Homo sapiens: one gene and its partners. The protein of the gene in region 3 purifies or fractionates together with the protein of the main gene of each other region. This does not show direct contact. Each region holds a gene or a part of one and is shown on either strand. Other genes may lie near its edges.

The links.
Region 1: the proteins of FAM13C (region 3) and AHCYL2 purify together in Homo sapiens (affinity purification with mass spectrometry; 3 studies listed by BioGRID and IntAct, with this or other methods). This does not show direct contact.
Region 2: the proteins of FAM13C (region 3) and PDZRN3 purify together in Homo sapiens (affinity purification with mass spectrometry; 2 studies listed by BioGRID and IntAct, with this or other methods). This does not show direct contact.

The regions. Positions count from the first base shown.
Region 1 is NC_000007.14:129,227,861-129,235,869, reverse strand, and holds part of AHCYL2 (adenosylhomocysteinase 3), read right to left. Parts: intron 1-8,009. UniProt on the Homo sapiens protein: May regulate the electrogenic sodium/bicarbonate cotransporter SLC4A4 activity and Mg(2+)-sensitivity. On the contrary of its homolog AHCYL1, does not regulate ITPR1 sensitivity to inositol 1,4,5-trisphosphate.
Region 2 is NC_000003.12:73,383,316-73,391,324, forward strand, and holds part of PDZRN3 (E3 ubiquitin-protein ligase PDZRN3), read right to left. Parts: intron 7,802-8,009; coding exon 7,703-7,801; intron 6,564-7,702; coding exon 6,501-6,563; intron 4,755-6,500; coding exon 4,653-4,754; intron 2,471-4,652; coding exon 2,354-2,470; intron 1,616-2,353; coding exon 50-1,615; 3' UTR 1-49. UniProt on the Homo sapiens protein: E3 ubiquitin-protein ligase. Plays an important role in regulating the surface level of MUSK on myotubes. Mediates the ubiquitination of MUSK, promoting its endocytosis and lysosomal degradation. Might contribute to terminal myogenic differentiation.
Region 3 is NC_000010.11:59,247,349-59,255,357, reverse strand, and holds part of FAM13C (protein FAM13C), read left to right. Parts: intron 1-914; coding exon 915-1,010; intron 1,011-2,359; coding exon 2,360-2,559; intron 2,560-3,681; coding exon 3,682-3,783; coding exon of another isoform or gene 3,784-3,871; exon of another isoform or gene 3,872-4,189; intron 4,190-7,587; exon of another isoform or gene 7,588-7,620; coding exon 7,621-7,744; 3' UTR 7,745-8,009.

The DNA of each region.
Region 1 (8,009 bases), on a different chromosome or scaffold from region 3:
GAATGGTTTAAGAAACAACAATATAGACTTAGGAAATTAATTGAGCAGTTAAAAAATATGAGACAGATCTATAGGTACTGATACAGAAAGAGCTCTAAGATGTGCTACTGAATAAAAAAGGAACCTGCAAAACAATGTATAGAGAGTATGCTTTTATTTATGTACAAGTTATTATAAAACTCACTTTGGAAAGCTGAGGTGAGCAGCTCACTTGAGCCCAGGAGTTCATGACCAGCCTGGGCAATATGGCGAAACCCCATCTCTACAAAAAATACAAAAATCAGTTGGGCATGGTGGCATGTGCCTGTAGTCCCAGCTCCTCCACAGGGTGAGGTGGGAGGATTGCTTGAGCCTGGGAAGTTGAGGCTGCAGTGAGCCATGATGGTACCACTGCACTCCAGCCTGGGTGACACAGTGAGACCCTGTCTCAAGAGAAAGAAGAAGAAGAAGAATGAGAAGGAGGCTGGATGAGGTGGCACATGTCTGTAATCCTAGTCCTTTAGGTTCAGAGGTGGAAGCCTCTCTTGAGCCCAGGAGTTCAAGTTTACAGTGATCATACTATTGCACTCCAGCCTGAGCAACACAGTGAGATCTGCCTCAAAAAAAAAAAAAGAAGAAGAATGAGAAGGAGCAGCTAGAGAAATAAGATGGAAGCTAGTAAAGATCGGTGTCACAGAAGCCAAGGGAAAAGAGTGTTTCACAAGGAGTCAATGTCAAATGCTGCTAAGAGGTCCAAGAAGATGAGGACTGAAAAAAAAGACCCCCATGTTTCCCAATCTAATGGACATCAACAACTTTAGCAAGAGGGTTTTGTTTTGGTTAAACAGAATATTATAGCAGGAGTGAGTTAAGGAATTCATGAGAGGAAAAAAGCACATATAGCATGTACTGAAAACTCCTTTAAGAAGCATGCCTGTGAAAGAGAATAGAAAAACATGACAGCAACAGAAAATATGCAGGTCAAAGGACAGGGTTTTCAAAATGGGAGACAATAGGGCAAGTGTGAATTCTGAAGGAAAAGACCTAGTAGAAAGATGAAATAAACCAAAGGAAGAAATTCTTTAAGACAGGAGAGGCCAAGCACAGTGGCTCACACCTGTAATCCCAGCACTTTGGGAGGGTGAGGCAGAAGGACTGCTTGAAGCGAGGAATTCGAGGCCAGCCTGGGCAACAAAGTGAGACACCATCTCTACAAAAAGTTTTTAAAATGTGGCTGGGTGCAGCGGCTCATGCTTATAATCCCAGTACTTTCAAAGGCCAAGGAGGAAGGATCACTTGAAGCTGGGAGTTCAAGACCAGCCTAGGCAACATAGCAAGAGACCCCATCTTGGCCAGGTGTGGGCTCGCGCCTGTAATCCCAGCACTTTGAGAGGCCAAAGTGGGCAGATCACAAGGTCAGGAGTTCCAGACCAGCCTGGCCAACCTGGTGAAACCCCGTCTCTACTAAAAATACAAAAATTAGCCAGGCACAGTGGCGGATGCCTGTAATCCCAGCTACTTGAGAGGCCGAGGCAGCAGAATTGCTTGAACTCACGAGGCGGAGGTTGCAGTGAGCCGAGATAGTGCCACTGCAGTCCAGCCTGGGTGACAGAGTAAGGCTCCATCTAGGGGGAAAAAAGAGACCCCATCTCTACAAGAAAGTCATAAAAAAATTAGCCAGGTATGGTGGCATGCACCTATAGTCCCAGCTACTCGGGAGGCTGAGAAGGGAGGTTCTATTGAGCTCAGGAGGTTGAGGGTGCAATGAGCTATGACCACACCACTGCACTCCTGCCTGGGCTACAGAGTGAGACTTCATCTCTTGAAGAAAAATGAATGAAAACAAAGAGAAAGAGAGAGAAGAAAGATAGAAAAAGAAAGGAGGAGGAAGGGGGGAGGGGGAGAAAAGAATGATTACAGCACCTGTGAAGGGATTGGTCTTGACAGAATGAAGGAGAAAAAGATGAGTCCCAGATGCACATAGGTTTGTAGACTTGGGAGGTAAAAGAATGAAGGAATTCCCATTCAGCAGCTTCCATTTTTATAATGAGGCATAAAGCCTATGACTGGTTAAAAAAGAAGAAAATATGAGAGATTAGAAATAAGAGCTGGGCACGGTGGCTCATGCCCATAATCTCAGCACTTTGGGAGGCTGAGGAGGGCGGATCACGAGGTCAGGAGATTGAGCCATTCTGGCGAACACGGTGAAACGCCATCTCTACTAACAATACAAAAATTAGCTGGGCGTGGTAGTGCGTGCCTGTAGTCCCAGCTACTCATGAGGCTGAGGCAGGAGAATCGCTTGAACCCGGGAGGCGGAGGTTGCAGTGAGCGGAGATCGCGCCACTGCACTCCAGCCTGGGGACAGAGCAAGATTCCATCTCAAAAAAAGAGAAAAAGAAATAGAGACAGTAGGCCAGGCACAGTGGCTAATGCCTATAATCCCAGCACTTTGGAAGGGTGAGACAGGAGGATCACTTGAGCCCGAGAATTGGAGACCTGCAACATGGCAAGATACCGTCTCTACAAAAAAATAAAAAAATAGCCAGGCGTGGTAGCACACTTGTAGTTCTGGCTACTCAGGAGGCTGAGACAGGAGGATTGCTTGAACCAGGGAGTTTGAGGCTACAGTGAGCTGTGACTGTACCACTGCACTCCAGCCTGGGTGAGAGAGGGAGACCTTGTCTCAGTAAAAAAGAAAAGAGAAAGAGACAATATGAAGAAATAATTCGCAGTGAGCTGGAAAGTGAACTAGAGAAATGTATAACATTGCTAGGTAATGCTGATTATGCATATGAAATAGATGATTATAAATTTTTAATGACACTGATCTGTCTAATTTGCTGATTTTCTCTAGCAACTCTCAGCTCCATGAGTGCCAGCAACTAAGAAGGTAGATGGTTAGGTTCAACCCGTACATCACTCCAAGTTCTACAAGCAGCAGAAGTCAACACTGGCTGAATTAAACAGAAAAAGAATTTACAGAAAGGATATGAGGTCACTTTTTCAGTGAAGAACTTAAGTGCTACACAGCTAAAACAACACTCAAAATTACAGAACTGGGTTGGCAAAGATGTGATTGCTAATGCCAAGCAGGAGATGCTGCAGCTTGGTTTGCACCATCACAGTTCTGGATACTAAGTGCTAACACTTGCCACTGTTGCCCTTATAACTTGATCTTGCTGCTAGAGACTGATACTACATGTGAATCTGCTGATCAAGGAGGGGGATATTGTAAAGAACATGGTGGAACAGTTTGAGGGACTGAATCAGCTGAAGGATGAAGAGAGTGGTAAAGGAATTAGTATTGGGAAGATAATGGATGGCGGATGGCGGGTAGTGACTGAAACAAACAGGGATGTGAGGCATGGTGTTTAGGCCTCCCCTTGAAAGAGGCTAGATTGTGAGATCCAAAGTGGTCTTAGCAGCAGCTTAAGCAGACTTCAGTGGGAGTCTGGTCAGAGCAGCACGGGTGTTGGCACAGAGGCAAAGCTGCCCAATATTGCTATGGCCAGCATTTCATTGACAAAGCCTTGGACAAGTTAATTACTCTCTTTGAGCCTATATTTTCTTATCCATAATATAAAGATAGTACTACACATCTGATAAAGTTGTCATGAGGATTAAATACTAAGACAGAGATTCCTGACACGGAGTAAGTATTCAGTAAATGGTAGCAATTATAAGTGACACTGAAGCCAAGAGAAGAGTTTCCAAGAAAAGGTAGTCAATAGATGAAGTTTCACCTTGGAGCACTGTAGAATGTAAGTGTGTGCAGAGAAGATGAAGCTAGTTTTAGCCTCAGGTTTGCAACATTCAGAAAGGCTAAAGTCCTATACTCAGAGAAACTCAATCAGCAGTTCAAATACCCTTCCTTTATATAGGTTCTAAGCTAAGAACTAGGTGCCCCAAACCAATAGATTTCTACTGATAGACCCTTGAAAAAAAAAAAGAAAATAAAATCACCAGCTTTTAGTGCAAGCGTCCAAGAGGGAAATAGCTAACTGAACTGTTGCACGATACAGCTGGGGAAAAGGGAGACTGAAACCCATACAAATAATCATCTAATTTAATCAAAGTAATTTTAGAGTTGGGAACTGTTACAGAAGAAACGTCAATCCACTGCCGCTTTCTGCTCTGCTCTCACCAAATCGCAGGCCATAGGTCATTCAGACTATAAAAAGCTCCTACAAATTCCATAGAAATCTGATCAAGTTTACTAAACCTCTTGTTGGGTGAATGGAATTTCAGCTCCTCTAATTGTGTCTACCACCTAAACATGACAGCAGGGCAGTGGATCAGGGCAACTGCCAAGATTGTTCTCTTCCCATCTGCCTCAGTTGTACCTCTCTAAATTATTTAAACAAAAACCACCATGAAACAAACTGCATATTCTTTATAAACTTGACAAAGGGTCTGAATAAAGATTACAACAAACTTTTTTTCTCTCGTGGGGGAGGGAATCACTTCCAAGGAAATGATATAATAAACTCACTCTCCCTTTTTAATGAACTATCGATTTCTTCAATTAACTGGATACTGAGAATGTAGGTAGTACTAGTAGTAGTAGTAGTAGTAATTGTCTTCCTCAAGACATCAAACACACAACTGCAACTTCAGCTCCTAAAGCAGCTTTTTTTTTTCTTTTTTTTGAGACAGAGTCTCATTCTGTCGCCAGGCTGAAGCGCGGTGGCATGATCTCGGCTCACTGCAACCTCCACTTCCCGCATTCAAGCATTCAAGTGATTCTCCTGCCTCAGCCTCCTGAGTAGCTGGAACTGTAGGAGTGCACCACCATGCCCAGCTAATTTTTTGTATTTTTAGTGGAGACAGGGTTTCACCACATTGGCCAGGATGGTCTTGATCTCTTGACCTCATGATCTGCCCACCTCAGGCTGCTTTCTCAGAAAATAAATGCTCACAAAAACACACGGTAAGACCTTCAACCACGCAATAAATAAAAAGAAACTGTCAGTGCAATAACAAAAAAACTACCCAAAAAACACAGATTAAGATTTAGGGCCAGGCGTGGTGGCTGACGCCTGTAATCCCAGCACTTTGGGAGGCTGAGGCAGGTGGATCACGAGGTCAGAAGTTCACGACCAGCCTAGACAATATGGTGAAACCTCGTCTCTACTAAAAATACAAAAATTAGCCAGGCGTGGTGGCGTGCACCTGTAGTCCCAGCTACTCGGGAGGCTGAGGCAGAAGAATCACTTGAACCCGGGAGGCAGAAGTTGCAGTGAGCCAAGACCGCACCACTGCACTCCAGCCTGGGCAACAAAGCAAGACTCCATCTCAAAAAAAAAAAAAAAAAGATTTAGAAGGTTCATCCTGAGTTTCGAACAGAGTACTATTTGAATTGAAAAGCAACAGTTTAGGGCTCTGTTAGTTCCATCACATTACCGTGTAACCTTGAGACAAATTCCTTAATCTCTTCGACACTCAGTTTCTTCAATAAAACAAGGAGAACACTAGCTATCTTCGAGGCCTCTTAAAAGAATTAAATAGCCGGGCGCGGTGGCTCATGCCTGTAATCCCAGCACTTTGGGAGGCTGAGGCGGGTGGATCACGAGGTCAGAAGATCGAGACCACCCTGGCTAACTTGGTGAAACCCAGTCTCTACTAAAAATTAAAAAAATCAGCCGGGTGTGGTGGCACACACCTGTAGTCCCAGCTACTCAGGAGGGCAAGACAGGAGAATCGCTTGAACCCAGGAGGCGGAGGTTTCAGTGAGCCGAGATCGCCACTGCACTCCAGCTTGGGTGACAGAGCGAGACTTGGTCTCAAAAAAAAAAAAAAAAAAAAAAAGAATTAAATAAAACAGTATATGTAAAGCTCTAAGTACAATGCCTGGTATACAGTAGGAATATTCTTCCCTTTGCAATTTTCAAAAGCTCTTATCAAAGATTGACTCATAGAGATGGTGAGGCTTAAAGAATAGGGAAAAAGTGTTAGCTGAACAGGAAGAAAGGGTATATTCCTCAGGTACTCCAAATTTATTTATAACTTTTAAAATATGGATAAATTTCTCAGATTATCAGTAAATTACCAGTGTGAAGCTGCATCATTGATCTTGAAATGCTTTTCTGTATAAGATGCTTTTATTCTCCTCTTCTAAATTTACAATTCTTTCAAGTTCTACATTTGTACAATTTTCTCCCATCCTCTTCCTAAAGCTCTAACTCAGACCTGCCTTACTTTGGTCTTGGGATGACCTAAGCCTTAGCCAGACAGACACGCCTTAGAGTTCACTTAGTATTCTAAAAGACCTCTGGGAGAAAGCAAGAACTCAGCATCTAAGAAGTTAGAATCACTGTGGCATAATGAAAAGGACATGGGCTTTGGAGACGGACAGCCCTGGATTTAAGTTCTACCTCTGACACTTTCTAGATGTATAACCTTGGGCAAGGCACTTAACCTCCCAGGATCTCATTTCTGCATCTATAAAATGGAAATAATGCCACCTACATCTCATAGTATGGTTGTGAGGATTACAGAACCCCTATGACAACTCCTGGCACATAAAAGGCTAATGGCTCACATCTGTAATCCCAGCACTTTGGGAGGCCGAGGCAGGCAGGTCACCTGAGGTCGGGAGTTTGAAAGCAGCCTGACCAACATGGAGAAACTTCATCTCTACTGAAAATAGAAAATTAGCCGGGCATGGTGGTGCATGCCTGTAATCCCAGCTACTCAGGAAGCTGAGGCAGGGGAATCGCTTGAACCCGGGAGGCGGAGGTTGCGGTGAGCTGAGATTGCACCATTGCACTCCAGCCTGGGCACCAAGAGTAAAACTCTGTCTCAAAAAAAAAAAAAAAAAAAAAAAGGCTAATTATTGGTAACTATTATTACAGACCAACTGCCAATTGCCTTACTGAACACTTTTCAGAGCAGTACTCTTGTAACAGGCAAAAGGAGTCATACTGCTACCACATTCCCATGTCTTTATCCAAAACATTCCATTTTAGTACTCTATAATTAACCAAATCAAGAGCTTAAACAATTCAGGACAAGAAGTGCTAACATGGCTCAACTCATTCTCTCCTGACAGCAACAAAGCCAGTGGAAGGTGGATATGTTTGCCAAAAGCAATAAAGGGTCTGTTTGAACACGGTCATTACTGATACTGATGTAAGCACAATCTAGTTGAGGTTCTTGGGCTTGCAGCCTTATTGTCAGAAAGTTTTAATATTTCTGAAATAAATCCTCTCCTGCCTTGTTTTCCCTGCTGTGCGCCAACACTCCTATCACTCATTTTCAAGAACACAAGGAAGAAATCCCTTTCAGCTAGTACTACCTCATTCCCTGTGGAACTTACCTTCCCATTTCCCAAATTACTTCTTATAGAGATTTTTGGCTTGCTGGGTTCACTTGATGTCAACTTATGAAAAAGGACACTATAATTAAATATATCATAGCCACATAACATGATCTGGCCCCCAGAGCATCGCAAGTTACAGGACGGAGGCAGGTGCCAAAGATAAGATGTGATTGAGTAACCTGCACACCATATGTTCCTTCTTATTAACTACTGCACTTGGGAATTCTGGCTCTTGTAAAAAGTTTATTCCCCTTGTGTGGCTGAGCAGAGTAACAAAACTAAGAAAACTGATGATATGTGAATGAAGTAAGGAAAACCATCTATGGAAATGTGACTTAAAATAAATGTTTATACATGAAAGTTAAAAAACAAATGCAACAGTCACCAGTTCCACAGCCAAAGGCAGCTATTTCAATACTAGTATTCTCAGTTCCTTCATATGCTATAAGAAAAACAGTAAGGAGTCAAGGTCAAAGTGGTTATTTACATAGACAATCTAAGAATCAACAAAGGCTCAACAAATCAAAATGTCACACTGCAGTTCCTTGGTGAGATGACTTTCAACTTAGGGAAAGGGCAGTCTTGGGCACTTATTTTGATTTAGCCAATTCAATATCAAGAAGGTTAAAGATTGGGCACCTGAAAAGCAGCTCAGCAATGCCCTGAATTTCGTCATCCAGCTGTATCCTTGCCCAGAGCTTCACCT
Region 2 (8,009 bases), on a different chromosome or scaffold from region 3:
TACCCCAGTGGTAGTGGTCTCCTTTATGTACATAATGCAGAAGTGAAAATTATACAGTAGTCACCGATAGGAAGGAATTGTATACTCTAGTGCCGTCCGGGGATTTTGTGCCGTGGGTTAAGAGTTCTTGGATCGTCATCCAGTTATCGAAGATTTTCTTATTCCTCTTCTTCATCATCTTTTTGTGGCTCAGTTCGAGAATGTTCATCTCCTTCCTGTCATCGGCTGCTTGCTGCTCCTTGAGACAATCCAACCTGCTCTGCATCATGAACTCGCGCCGCCGCCGCTGCTCCTTGGCCTTCACCAGGTGCTGCTTCCTCTCCTCCTTGCTCCAGTAGCGCCCCATCTTCATCTCGCTCACCGCGTCGTCGTCGGTGGTCATGCCGCTGCGCTCTTCCCGGATCTTCAGGGCGCGCTCCCGCAGCAGGCGGTCCCGCACGGGCCTCTTGGTGATGTAGCGCGTCCCGTCGCTGCGGATCTTCACCTTCCACTCCATGCGCGGCTCCGACGGGGTGGGAGAGCTCAGGTCCTTGCACATGCTCACCAGGCTCATCTGGCTTTGCGCGTACTCCACGGCCGACTTCTGCTGGATCAGCTGCATGTAGCTCTGGTAGTGCTGGGCGTGCGCCGGGATGTGCGCGTGCTTGTATGGGGAGTGGTGATAGGAGGGCAGGTAGGCGCTGCCCAGCTTCTGGCTGGGCGTGGGGCTCCGGCTCCCGTCGCTGGCTCTCCGCTCTTTGCTTTCCAGGGGCTGGTTGGGGTCCAGCTCCTTCAGGGACGGGCTATAGGTAGGGGTGCCCACTTCGGGATCTTCCGTGATGGAGAGCAGATTCTTGGAGGCTGGCCCGTAGGCTTCCGTGGTCCCCACAGCCCCTTCGCTGCTCGGGCAGCTGATGCCCTCCGCCGCTCTCCTCAAGGAGTTGTCGGGGGAGATCTCCAGGGTGAGCGGGGTGCTGCGGCAGCTCTCGCCTGTGTTGTAGGCGCTCGAGCTGTCCTTGTCGGATTTCTCCGGGAGCTCGGTGATATCTGAGAGCTCGTGTCTGCGCACGTCGATGCTGGTGTTGTAGTTGCGGAAGCCGCTGTTGTGCAGCATCCAGGACTCGCGGTACTGCTCCTTGAGCTGCTGCATCTTGTGGGCGCGCACGATGCTCAGGCACTCCAGCTCGATGCTGCGCAGCTCTTCGTTCAGCAGCTCCAGCTCCTTGTCCACGCTCTCAGGGTCACTCTTGCCGGCGTCCAGGGGGCCGCTAGGGTAGTACAGGCCGTAAGGGGTGGCGCTCTTCACCTGGCACTTGAGCTCCAGGAGCTCGCGGAAGCGCTCGCACTCGTCCACCGGGATCCCCAGGTAGTCGGCGTCCGTGCAGTCGGCCGAAATGAAAGACTCGTTGCTGAAGGGCAGGTCGCCGCTGCCCAAGGTGTCCTGGCTGCAGGTGAGCTTCCTCTGCCCCGCCAGCGGGTTGGAGGATGCGGTGGCGTCGTCGCCATTGTTCTCTTGCTCCGAGCTCTCGTCATTACGGGTGCTCTCGTCGGTCCGCCCCACACCGCTGTCCTTCTCGTGCTGGTTGGACAAGATGGTGGCTGTATCTGTGGTCCCACCGTCTTCGTCGTGCTTCTTCTGCATAAACACAAGAACAAAGGGTCACAGTGAGGGAGGCCTGCGCAGCAGGTACTCAGGTTTGACCTTTCCTTGCGGTTTCTGGATAGGGCAGGCTGTACATTTCTAAGGCCAAGGGACAGCATCTGACAGTAGGACCACGTCAATAGCGTGGGCCTTAGCTACACCTACCCGTATCTACCTGGGCAAGTCACTTATTCTTGTTCTTGTCCTCAGTTTTGTAAAATGAGGATAATAGTCACTTTATCTCAATGAATGATTCTCAATGATTCTGTTAAATGAATCAGTACACAGGTAGAAGGATGTATAAAGGTCCTTGTTCAACTCAATAAGGACTCAATAAGTGGCTCATTAAGACTCTGACAATGGTAGTAGCATAGCAGGGAGCTAGAGAGCTCCAAGCAGCTCCTGTTAAACAGAGGGGATTGCTTTACTTTGGAAAACATGGCTTTTTGCAATCTATGGTAATGCCAACGCATATGTTTTCCAAACAAATTATCAGAAGGTCAGCTTTGCTTTGGCAATGTTGCTTAGATTTAAAAGCTTAGCTAGGGACAGTACCAGCTTGCATTTCACTGGTCTGGTGCTCAAATAGAAAAGTACTTGAGGCTGTTTTCTTGCTGCCTTCCAGGTGGATGGACTTCTGATGGTCTTTAGCACCATAAAGGGAGATGGAGGAAGCAGATTTTCCTCCAGCTCAGCAGGGCAGAGTGTCAGGGACTGGTGCGTGGGCGTTACCTGCTGCAGCACGCTAGCTGTGAATTGCATGGCCTGGTGGTGCTGCTCCTCCAGCATGTCCATGTGCAGGTCATCCAGAAAGTCGTTCCTGTCATCATCCATCCAGCCCTCATCCAGCTGCAGGCAAGAGCAGCCAACACATGCCTTAGAAGTTTCCTTTCATGTTCATTTATGTTTTTTTAAAAATGACATTACCTTGGGGGAAAATATTTCTAGGGCTTCCTCCAAGAGTCATCAAAATGCAGTCTGCCCAATGATTTGCTGTTAAGTCAGGAAACTATCCAACCCTTACATTAAACAGACCTCCAACCCTACACTACATCTGGGGAAGTCTTTAATATCCATGATTTTTTTTTTTCAGGGTGAAACTCTTTCATCCATCTCAGCTACCTTCAGTGCAGTAGGACACCTGTGTAGGAGGGTCAGGTAGATTTAGCTGGTCCACCTGCTTGCTGGACCAGACACGAGTTTAACAGGTCCCATAGAAAAATGATTTTCAGTGTGAAAAGAGTTCTTTCTGATACAGTAACTAGCTGTTTGGCTTGGGCAAGATATCACTTTTTTTTTTTTTTTTTTTGAGACAGAATCTCACTCTGTCTCCCAGGCTGGAGTGCAGTGGCACGATCTAGGTTCACTGCAACCTCTGCCTCCCGAGTAGCTGGGATTACAGGCAATGCGCCACTATGCCCAGCTAATTTTGGTATTTTTAGTAGAGATTGGGTTTCACCATGTTGGCCAGGCTGGCCTCATCCTGACCTCAAGTGAACCTCCTGCCTCAGCCTCCCAACATGCTGGGATTATAGGCGTGAGCCACTGAGCCTGGCTGGATATCACTTTTAAGAGGCCTTTATCTGCCTTGCCCAAAAAAGAGTGAACTATTCAGAAGTTGGCACTCTATAGCCCATGGGCTGAATCCAGCCTGGTATTTTTATAAATAATAATAAAAAAAGTTGAATGAGAACACAGCCATGCTCATTCGCTGACATAATTGTCTATGGCTGCTTTTGCACTAGAGTGACAGTCTAGCAGTCATGGCAGAGATGGTATGGCCACCCAAGTCAAACATTTACTATCTGGCCCTTTAAGAAAAAGTCTGTGACTGTGGGTGAGATGATTGCTGAAGTTCCCTTTGAGCTCATGAGGCTCCCATCTGTGGAGAATCAGATGCCCCGTATGCCACTGTCTGTCTCTCGGCTTTTTCAATCGGGTTTCATACTGATATGGTTTGGCTGTCCCCACCCAAATCTCACCTTGAATTGTAGCTCCCATAAGTCCTACGTGTTGTGCGAGGGACCTCGTGGGAGATAATTGAATCATGGGGGCAGTTTTCCCCATACTGTTCTCATGGTAGTGAATAAGTCTCATGAGATCTGATAGTTTTATAAGGGGAAACCCCGTTTGCTTGGTTCTCATCTCTCTTCCCTGCTGCCACGTAAGACGTGCCTTTTGCCTTCCACCATGATTGTGAGGCCTCCCCAGCCATGTGGAACTGTGAGTCCATGAAACCTCTTTTTTCTTTATAAATTACCCAGTCTCGAGTATGTCTTTATCAGCAGCATGAAAACGGACTAATACACATACCTAAAGAGATCTACTACTGGATTGCCCTAGATGTGTTGCTGGAGCCATTCTAAGTGGATCAAGAGTGCCACCTGGGTGAGTTCATGATTCCTCCTGTGGAAGGAGTTATTACAACACAGAGGTTTCTGAATCAGATTACTTGGGCCTGAACCCCTCCCTGCTTTATCACCCTCCTTCTGGGCCTTTCCTGGGTAACTTTTGAATCTCTGGGAACTTCCATCTCCTGGGAAGGCTCTCCTGTGTGTAAAGTGCTCCACGGAGGGCCTAGCACTTATTCGGTGGTCATATCAGTTTTAATTATTTATCATTCAATGTTTCTTTTAATTTGAAAGAGCAAGTTTTAATTCCCCATACTCTGCTATTGTAAATGAAACCTGCACAGATCAAGGCTGGAACATATGTCAGGCCTTGGGAAGTCAAATGTCTTGACGTGACCCCGGTTGTGTTTTCCATTCAATTCTGTTTCCTTTTCCTTCCCTATGATCCCTGCATTAATGAACGTCGTGGGCCTGCAGTATAGATGCCAGGGTGGGCATCTAACCAACCTTAAATGGCTAACTCATAAAGTGAATTCTGAATCACAGCAAGTTTGATTACATTTCCAGGGAACAAAGCACCTTCAAGTTCGCAGCCAATACTCAGGTGCTCTTTTGCAGGCCTGGGGATCTTTTGATTTTAGAAATATAGACCCAGTTTCATCTGTAGGAAGCCAATTTACCTGGAGTTCAGGCCTTGCAATCAGCAATGAAAAGTTTTTATTTTCTTCACTGGTTAGAAGAGCCACAGCCTCTTCACGGTTCTGCACCTCTATCCCATTAATCTTTTAAAAAAAAAGGGGGGGTGGGGAGAGTGGGGAGACAAATAGCATGATTAGATGGTGCAAAATCATTCTATTTTATTTCAGACCTGCATTTGTCACCCACTCACAGTTAGAACATACAACTTCCGTGTAGCTGGAAAAGAATACTGATGTTAGGAAGGAAAGGTCTTGCTCAGACCAATGCAGTTTCTCTGGTCTATAAGGGAGCCTCCATGAGTATAGTTCATGAGGTGACTGTGATGTGTGGGGTGTGAACAGAAGGGGCTGGACCTCCAGAAGACGGCACTGAGAAAAATCATAATGCTCTGCAGAGGGAACATGGAAGCAATTAGACATAATATTCAGGCAGGAGTATATGTAGACATTATTGGATAATATAGAAGAAAAAGCAGCAAACTGAGGTTAAGAAAATGGAATAGAATTATACATGGTGTTTTGTGTCCCCAGTTTGACACTTAAACTTCTTTGGGCCAGGCGGAGGGTCAAGTGGGCGTGACACTCTCACTATCACACTTGATTAACCCTCTTGCAGGATTTTTGCTTGCATGTCCTGGTGACTTTGAGCCCTGCTGGTCTGGAGGTCTTAGTCCTGGTGGAACGCCGCCTCCAGGGGACACAGCAATGGTTCCACTGAATTGGAAGTGGAGGCTTCCATATGCCTCCTTACACTAGTGAGCCAACAGGCAGCAAAAGGGGTGACTCTATTGGTTGGAGTGATTGCCCTCAATTACCAAGGAAGATGGGCTTGCTGTGACACAGTGGAGGCAGGGAGGATTGTGTCTGGAACCTAGGGGATTCCTTGGAGTACCTCTGAGTGCTTCCATTCTCAGTAGTAAAGGTTAATGGAAAACTCCAGCAATCAAAAAAAAAAAAAAAAAAAAAAAAAAGAGGCAGTATGCTGAGGACCCTGACCCTTCAGGTGTGAAGGTTTGGGTCACTTCCCTAGGGCAAGCGATCCTGAGCAGCACAGGTTCTGGCTGAAGGCTAGAGAAACCCAGAGTAGGCAGTGGAAGAAGAAAATCAAAATGACCTGTGGTGAGGTATGCAATGAGAAAAACACAGTGGATTAAGAATGAGAGGATACGGATGAGAAGAGGTAGAAAGCTAAGCCTTGTGGACACAATGAAGCCAAGAATTTCAATTCTGTGAGATTAAAGAAGGTTGTAGCCAAAAGAGACATGAATGGTCTCATTTGGACTAGACGGAGCAACAGGGCTCGAGGTCAAGTAATGACCCTTAGAAGCGATTCCAGGATGGTTAGATGTTGAGTCAGAAAATTTCTAAGACTTTTCAATCGATGCTGCTAAATTTGCCAAAAATGTTCCCCTTTTATGGACGAGCCTCTGAAATGCTTGGTCCAAAGTTAATCTTTCAGAGAAATCTAAAACGAGAATTATTTTAGTTCACAAGTTGTAAACTGTTGGCCTGACTTTGGCTCACTGATGTTTGTTTTGATCCAAACAGAATGAAACAAAATAAGGAGAACTGGCTCAAATTTTGCAAGGCCCTCTTTGGAGAGAACATGCCCCATCTAGTTTGTCCCAGTCCTCACCACTCCCTCTTGCGTCTTATGACTCAGAGATAGCCTCACAATTAGTTTAACTTGTCTGGCCTCACTACACATCTGCGTTTGTGATCCCTGTTCTTTAACCGCTTCTGCATTTTCAACCCTAGACCTATCATTAGAACCAGTTTGTTCTTTAGTGATAGGCCCATCATGAGGCCATTGTTTGGAAGTGGACTTACCTGGATAATGCGGTCTCCTTCTCGGATGCGCCCATCCTTGGCTGCAATGCTGTTAGGGTCAATCTGAAACACACATGGACCATCTCAGCGCAAACGCAGACATGCATGAAAATAAGCAACAGCACTTTCAAAACCATTTCTAAAACACAGTCATGCTCACCCCTGTGTTTCTGTTTTGCACAGAAATAAACAAGACTTAGTGTCGTGCAAGGAGAGGCAAACATGAGCTGATCTGCTTCTAAGCCCTTTCTAGGGCTGGTTCTTGGATCCCTGTGTAGCAACCCTGTTACACAGCAGTGTGTGCAGGCTCTGCTGATCTGAGGAGGCACAGCTGACTTTTGTTGCATGCATGGTAATTAAAATCAAATCAATGATGTAGAACAGGTTAAAGGATACCCTTCATTATGTGGACTAGCAACTATACCTTATTTTATACCAAATACTTGTATTAAAATTTGGAAAATAACTTTAAAATTGAAATATAATTGGGACAAGGGGGACTGGTAAGGGGAGGGATGTCCCCAAATGCAGAAAGGATGGGTTAACTTAAGCTTGGTGAATGACATACAACCAAAGAGATAATTATTAAGTCTAGTAGATCATTCTGTAGCGACAAATTTTATTTCCTGACAAAATTGGGTTTCTGTGTTTGCAAGGATGGGTGTGCACTGTAAAGTTTCCATACTGAAATCAGTTGATTTGTATTATCTTCTCAAGGAAGATCAAAACAGCGTGCATCTATGTAGTTTGATAAGTACATACAAGTCACATTTAACTTATATGAAGTCAACTATATATACTCCACCAAGAGAAAAAAAAATGTGTGTGTGTGTGTGTGTGAGAGAGAGAGAGAGAGAGGCTTTAAAAAGTGTAAGTGATTCCATCCACCATTCCACTCAATGAACACGAGTTGGGAAATGTGAATCTGCTCTTCCCTTGGGGCTAAACACACAAAACCATGTAAACGGCTCCATTTTATGGCTGATTTGCAGGCTTCTCAAGGGTAATTTTGCCATAAGTACTGGCATTAGAACTTAACCTCCGTGGAAAGATGCAGCGCCATGGAGTGTGATGAGGGGGACAGAATAATTTGTGTCTTTCCAAAGAGATCTTGATGAGGTGGGTTAGGGTTGGTGAACATGAAAAAAAAAACCCTTTTGGTCTTGATACGATAGTTAGAAAAACAAAATCAGCCTTTGTACCTCACTGATATAAATCCCAATGTCGTCTTCATCGTCCGTCCGGTAGCACACAGTGAGGCCCAGCTTGTCCTGGCTGTTCATTCTGTAGAGGTCCACTTCCTAGACAAAGAAAGGCATTCCCAGTGAGACTCCAGCAGGCAATGCGAGTTGAGGGGATGTCAAATGCTTTAAAAATATTATCTTCAAATGAGGAACTGGATTTCTTTGCATTCAACTGTGTAGGGCCGGTTAACTTACTAAACAAAAAGTGATTATGGACACAGGATCAATGCCTACGGCATTTCTGACCTTTCACTCAATATAAAGT
Region 3 (8,009 bases):
GATGGGTCTTACAGCAGAGGGGTATAGAATATATTAGTGGATCAAGAGGTTACACATTTTTTTCAGGGAAGGATATTGGTAACTCCAACCTCCTTCTTGTATAGGTAGGAAATTGAGGATTCAGAGAAGTTAAATGTTTTGTCCAAAATAATTTAGTTGATATCACAGCCTGTCAGTAACCTAGTATATAATACAAGCATGTAGTGATGAAGACCTGTATAAGGTTGGTATTTGTGACTACATATAATCAGGAAAGTCTAGATAAAATACATGTTTCAGAAGAAAAATCAATGTCTGGATTGGTTTTTTAAGAATGAAGAAGTAATTAAGGAAGAGGTTCCTTAACACTTACGCATTTCAGACTCCTCCAAAAATCACATTGCTAAACTTGGACGTATCCTTTAAGAAACTTCCAAGAAAAAAACTGGCATGTGCTACATACAGTATCTTATAAATGACTTTCTGGCCAGGCACGGTGGCTCACACCTGTAACTGGGGGCCGAGGCAGGCTGATCACTTGAGGTCAGGAGTTTGAAACCAACCTGGCCAACATGGTGAAACCCTGTATCTACTAAAAATACAAAATAATTAGCCAGGCATGGTGGTGCGTGCCTGTAGTCCCAGCTACTCAGGAGGCTGAGGCAAGAGAATCGCTTGAACCCAGGAGGTGGAGGTTGCAGTGAGCCAAGATCATGCCATTGCACTCCGCCTGGGTGACAGAGTGAGACTCTGTCTCTAAATAAATAAATAAATAAATAAATAAATAAATAAATAAATAAATGACTTTCCTTTTCATGATAACTGCTGCATTATAGTATTATAATCCTTTACTTTGAGGCTTTTTGTCTGCTAAAAATGTTGACGTTTTCATTCTTGTCTGAGAGAGGAATAATAATTAATTTCATGTTTTTCAGGTAACTAAGCAAGACAAGAACCTCATAAAGCCGCTTTATGACCGATACAGAATTATCAAGCAAATCTTGTCAACACCTTCCCTTATTCCAACAATTGTAAGTCAGGATACTTGCATGCTGTTACTTTGTACTGATGTGTAGTTAACAGGATGTCACATAGTAGTACAAGAGTTATAAAAGACCCTTCATGGCAGTATATACTGCAAACAAGGCTAGTTGTCATTTCAAAAAGTGAAAATTTGGTCTTCTCTAACCCCATTACTATATTTAACAGTGGCTGATATTAGAACTATTGTAAAATAGGAACATATAGCACTTGTATGTCTAGAGCCAATTTTAACATTTGCTTTCATTATCTTGGGTGAAAAGAAATGATAGATTTCAGTTTGGCATTTTCTAATTTGTAACACAGCTAGACAAAACAGAGCCTTTCTGTTCTGTGTGTTGGTTAATTTTTTCCTTTAATCAGAAAATTAACAATATATTCTTGATATAATGCAACATTTGTTTTTGGTACCATTTGACCATACTGTACAAGATATGAGAAGATTTATTTCAATAGAAAATATAAGTACTGAAATTGAATTAGGCTACTTTTAATAAAGAATGATTTATGGGAATACAGAACTAGAAAAGCATCACAAATCCTACTCCATCAATATCAAAACAGTTACTTGTTCAAGATATCAATATAAAAAGGAATAAATATTAACAAATATAAATTTAAGTATGCTTGGGTACATTTATACTTCCACTTTTTTTGAGACAAATTATACTTCCACATTTTTAAAGACATTAAGTGAATAATAATTCATAGTCTTTGGAATTTTCCCTTTATGGAAGCATAATTTAAAATGTAGTAAGGTTCTTATATTTCTTGCAAGAGAATCTTCTAGTTGTGATAAGAATTATCAGAACAGTTGAGGAGTAACCCCACTTTGCTTTGGCCTTCAAATAGCTCTCCCCTGAACTTGTCAATTTACTGAGTATCCTCTGTATCTGAATGTTGGTCCCCACTGGGACCTGACTTGGGGTATTTCTGGAGGATAAAAGTTGTCCGTAGTCCACCTTATCTTAACTCATATCACAAGTATTAAGCTGGAGCCCAGAAGGTCTGAGTGAAAGGGAGGAACCACTTGGTAGTATAGTCCAGACTGGACCATATCCTAATGGTCTGTGCCTTCATTGGCCCAGAAGACACAGATGAACTTGGTGAGTGTTTTAGCCCAGCATGACTGCTGCCTTTTTGCTCATTAACTTCTGTAGGTTTTTAATGAAACTGCGGAAGAGCTCCTCTTGGTTTCTTCCATCCCAGTTCTCAGTAGGCACATGGGTCACCTACTGGTTTTCATGGCATTGATTTATAGTTCCCCTTCCTGTTTTTGTTTCCTCAAGAGGCACTGAGCATTACATGACTTTCTTTCTTTAACTCTGCCTGTGATAAGCAGGAGGAAGAGGACTCTGATGAAGACCGTCCACAGGGAAGCCAACAACCTTCTTTGGCAGATCCAGCATCTCACCTTCCTGTTGGTGACCACCTCACCTACTCTAATGAGACTGAGCCTGTTAGGGCCCTTTTACCAGATGAAAAGAAAGAAGTAAAACCACCAGCTCTCTCCATGTCTAATTTACATGAGGCTACCATGTGAGTATGAATCCTAAGTGTGGAGTCTCCTCTTAACTCCTTCTGGTCTGATACCAGTATATGAAGTAGAGCTGGCCTTTGAAAATGCTGGACTCAAAGGGGTGGGTCAACAGTTCTCAGGGCCTTTATCCTAGTCTCTTACATTTAGATGAGATAGTTTTTCCACTAGAAATCCACTTGGTAGTAAGCAAATGACTTGCCCTTTGTCTCTTAAATAGCCCTTCAGATATAAGCCATTTGGATTTTCATTAATATTATCATTATCATTATTATTATCATTATTCAGTAGCTGGCATTCCTCATGATAATTTGGCCTTCTTTGGTTTGTATCTTACAGCCCAGATTATGAGATTTAATTTAATTTAATTTAAGTTGACAGAAGTGTCTGTCAGAGAAAGCAAGTAGAAAATCATTTTTTTGGTGGTGGTTCTAAAGCAGTTATTCCTAACTTTTCAAGGGGTGTTGGGACTTCTTTGAAACCAATAGAATCATTTTAAGAAAATGCCCATGTATAATTTCAAGTTCACAGAATCTCTGAAACCATACATGAGTTTGGGTATGCTTGTGTATATACCAGATTCCTGCTCTAGAGTATATGACTTTTCTCTCATCTTGGTAGAATGAAGTGAGTAGAATTTGCAATGTAACTATCGCTTTCTTCTGGGTCTTATTTTCATTCACAAGGGTTTTGCTATTCTCCCAATATTCCCACACTTATTTCTCTAGATTAAGAATAGAATTTTCTTTAAAAGCTGCTCCTCTGTATCTCTTATGTTCAGTCTATGACCAAATGCTGATGAGTATTCCTTCAAAATATCCCTTCCCTCATCCACCTATATTGCTGTTACCCTTTCCAGTTCCTTCAGTGGATTCAATCAATCTCCTTGCCTCTTGTCTGTCCTTTCCCCTATCCTGTGATATTTTTTCCATCAGGTAATTTTCCCTGCTTATGTGCTTGCCTATGGTCAGGCTCTATGTGTGTCATATTTACTCAAAAGATACTCTTATGATGGGAACACTTTTCAATCATAGATGCTTTTTTGGCTGAACAGATAAATCTGCTCATGATGATCTCTCAATTATGCCAGTGCCCAGTAATGACAAGTATTTTACCTTATATAGGCCTGTACTTCTTGACCATCTCCGAGAAACTAGGGCTGACAAGAAGAGACTGCGGAAAGCCTTAAGAGAATTTGAAGAACAGTTTTTTAAACAAACAGGAAGGTATGTGTCGGCAGAGAGATTTTTAAAGCTAATACTTCCTAGAGAATTGCTGTTAAAAATGAGCTGCAATTTTTTGCAGGAACGGTGACTTTTTACAAAATGTATATAATTTCCACACTGGCTTAGACTCAGGATTTGTCCAATGCAACATTCTAATAGTGCCAGTATTAGGGATGTTTCATGGGACATGGTAGCTGTCAGGTATGACATCAATCTGTAAAAAATAAAGGATAAACTCCAAAAATCTCTAACTTTGCACAATAAATCTCATCATAAATAAATGAATTTATTTAAACCTTTAAAAAAATCTGTTGATTTTTTTAGCCCACATAACTGCTTTGTTGTTGGTTTCTTAGTTCCACAAGTTACTCCCTAATTTATTAAATAATAATTCCTTATTTGCTTTAAATGTCTTCCTTAAAAGTCAGGATCTGTCCCTAATTATTTTATTTCAAGAGTCGATCAAAAATTCATAGTCATTCTTTCTACTTCTTAAATAAATGGTTAGCTGTATCATCTGTCCTCTATTTTTCTGTGTCAACCCAAGTCTCATTATACACTCTATTAGTTTCCTCCAATTTTTGGTGTATCATCAACAAAATTACATATATAATCAAGAGATAAGGTTATTGATCTAATTTGGAAGAGAGATAAATTGCTTAGCTATCTTGAACCTCAGTTCCCATTTTATGAGCTGAAATGGTTGGACTCCTGGGATACTTTGGGAAGCTACAGCTGTCATGTGGGATATCAATCTTTACAAAAATAAATAAATGAAGAGTGTAACTTTCCCAAAGCCACAAGTTATTAAGTAGATGAAATGAGATTAAACTCATTATTCAACTCATAAACTCATCATTAAACTCATCAGTGCTACATGGGCTCCTCTGTATTCCTCTCCATTTAGGTATTGTATTTGACTTTTCAGTTCAGCAGGTTGAGGGTTGTCCTGATGGAAAGGGACTATTTTCCAAAAGCACCTTGAAACTCTCATGCGTGGTCTACTTACCTCTTAGTCCCTGGCAGGTTTTCCATTTTAGCCTACCAGGGATATTCTTTAGGACTGGACCTATTGAGTGAAAAGCTTTTTGCATTCAGCCAATACAGATGTAACAACTTATTTTCTACTTACAATCTTCCTTTCCAGTTGATTGCTACAAGTCCAACTTACCTTTTTGGTGATGTTAAGTAATCTAGTGAGAAATGTTATGTGGCTCATAAATTTAGAATATAAAGCATTTGTTATTTTTTTCCTTTTCCATACTTTTTTCTTTTATAAAATGTTCATGTAACTTTCCTTGTAAAATATTCCTTGGAGTAGTAACTTTGTCTGTCTGGACTGTCTGCTCCTATTATACTTTGGGTAAATATGTGACTTGCACTATAAAGTTCCTGATCTCTGCCTCTTTTGGATTAAAGGTATTCTATGGGAATTTTTCATTCAGGGAAATATTTGTGGAGATGTTATCACATATTCTAAATCTAAACAGTCATTACATATGAGAAATGACACTTTAAGATGTGCGTACACTCTTTTCATAAATTTGAGTTCCCTGAATAAATTTATATTTTTTAGCAATTTGAACTCAGGAATCTATCGTAAGGGGTTTGAGAACTTCCCAGTGTGCTACTAGTCCTGCCTACTGGATCTGCAGTGTCACTTGGTGTGCTTTTTGTCATACATACAGGGAAGTTAGTTATGTTCTATGTATAGTGTTCCACTGCACCTATGAGTCTTAAACCCACTTCAGATAAGTCTGTATTTGTCTATGAAGTTTTATGCCCCCTTGTGATGATATATTTCAACTAAATGCACAAGTGATGATCTTTTACAACTAAAATCAAACAGTTGAATGGCTAGGAAATATGGACCTTAATTTTGTTTATCTAAGACATTTTATTGGGAAGGCCTAAGCATCCATAAGTTAAAATAACCATGCAAATGGATTACTAAAATGTTTAAGGCACTATAAATGTTCTTGGTAATATTTGCCATACAAGAGGCATGAGAATCATGCAGATATTACATTATTATTAATAATTATTAGCCTGGAAGTGTGCTAAGCACTTTAGTATGTTTTATATAATGGAGAAACTCCTTCAGGAAAGACTTGGCAAAACTTTTCATTCTTGTCAAAGCACTCTTTTTTTTTTTTTTTTTTTTTTCTTTTGAGACGGAGTCTCACTCTGTCACCTGGGCTGGAGTGCAGTGACGCGATCTCGGCTCACTGCAAGCTCCGCCTCCTGGGTTCACGCCATTCTCCTGCCTCAGCCTCCCAAGTAGCTGGGACTACAGGCGTACGCCACCACGCGTGGCTAAGTTTTTATATTTTTAGTAGAGACAGGGTTTCACCATGTTAGCCAGGATGGTCTCAATCTCCTGACCTTGTGATCCGCCCGCCTCGGCCTCTCAAAGTGCTGGGATTACAGGCGTGAGCCACTGTGCCCGGCCTCAAAGCACTCTTATTAGCCAAAATGGAATATGCAAAACTACGGAAAATTACATAATTGATTATTAATGTTTCTCTGTAATAATTAGACAATTTCTTTACTTAGATCTATTTATACAAATTAAGGTGGTATTCAGACATCCAGCCATGATAAGTTTGACTCATAACACAGAATGGAGGCAAAGATATATGTTATATAATTTAGACAACAGTTAAGAAGAATGCTGTCTATGGATTTGTATACTGTTCTGAGTTCTGTACTAGAAATTGCAGGGCAATAAATAGTGTTGAAATACAAGTAGATACTATATTCTTAATTTGTATAGATTAGCTTGTTTTTTATTTGGTAAGAGATAGAAATATCTCTTTATCACTACTGGGAAAAATAGAAGGGAGCTAAAGATAAAACATTAAATATATGCTATTTACCTGGTTTCAGCCATACTAACATTAGAGAATACTTGTGGTTATATTCAGTTGTAATTGTGGTGACTATATCTGTGTCCTCTACCCCTTGAATTTCAAAGTCGTGGGTGGAAATGTTTTCAAAACGATTGGCTATCTTATTAACCAAGAAAACAAGAGCCTTCTGAGACCCTGTCGCAATTTTTCCCTTTAGAAAACGTTTCCTGACAACATATTTTTGTGGGAAGGCAAATGGTTTTAACTCCTGATATTACCAAGTTATTCTTCCAAGTAAACAGCAAGAGTATGCTGCATATGTATAAAAATCTATGCATTGTTACATGTCTAGCCTTAGTAGAATTAGTGTACAGAAGAGAACCACCACAATTTAGACTCTTGTCAATTACTTCAATCAAGGAACAGCTCAGTGGTTCTACTATATATTAGCAGAGATAGGTATTATAATTACAAGAAAATCTGGAAACGTTTCAAGTTTGTAAGACAGACCCTAAATGCTTTTCTTGTTACCATAGGTTTATGTTATTTTTATAATGAAATTCCTGTAGTATTTTCAGGTTAATATTTTTAACAACTGTATTAGGGCTGATCATTTTGTACAGCTGTAGGGGTGTGGCAAATAATGGAAGAATGACTGGACAAAGAATGCCTTGAAAGTTCTGTTTCTTGTTTGTTTGCTTCTCCTTAGATCTTTTCACTGACCCCTTTGTTGTAAGTCTAAGCACTAGACCACATATTTGCAAAACACTTATGACATTCAAGTTTTCAAAGGTTACTATTATTTAGAAACTTAGTAACACATGGAAGAAGGAGTGAATGAAGGTGAAAGGGAAGGAAAAGAAGACATGATGCAAAAACCAAGTGGAGGCCGTTACAGTATACTTTCTCATGTATGAATTATAAAAGAATGTTTAAATAATGACTTGATTCATTGTGAACTAACAAATGTATTTTTGTTTTGCAGAAGTCCACAAAAGGAAGATAGGATACCAATGGCAGATGAGTATTATGAATATAAGCACATAAAAGCCAAACTGAGACTATTAGAGGTCCTCATCAGCAAGCAAGATGTGGCCAAAACTATTTGAGGTTCAGGAAATGTTATGATCACTTTCACCCATGATATAAAGTAAAGTTTATTTTCCTCTGCCATCCTTGCTAAGTAGTTTTGACACAATGAAAATGGAAGCACTTTAGTGGTAGTATTAGCTGTTTTTAAGAAGGAATAGCAAGTTTAATTATATACAAGGAGAAGGGATTTAAACGGGGGGAAGAATACAACAGGTAGCCATATAATTGGGAAAAAATTCAGTGTCCTCCATGCCAAGCAGAAAACTCATAGTCAATACAAGT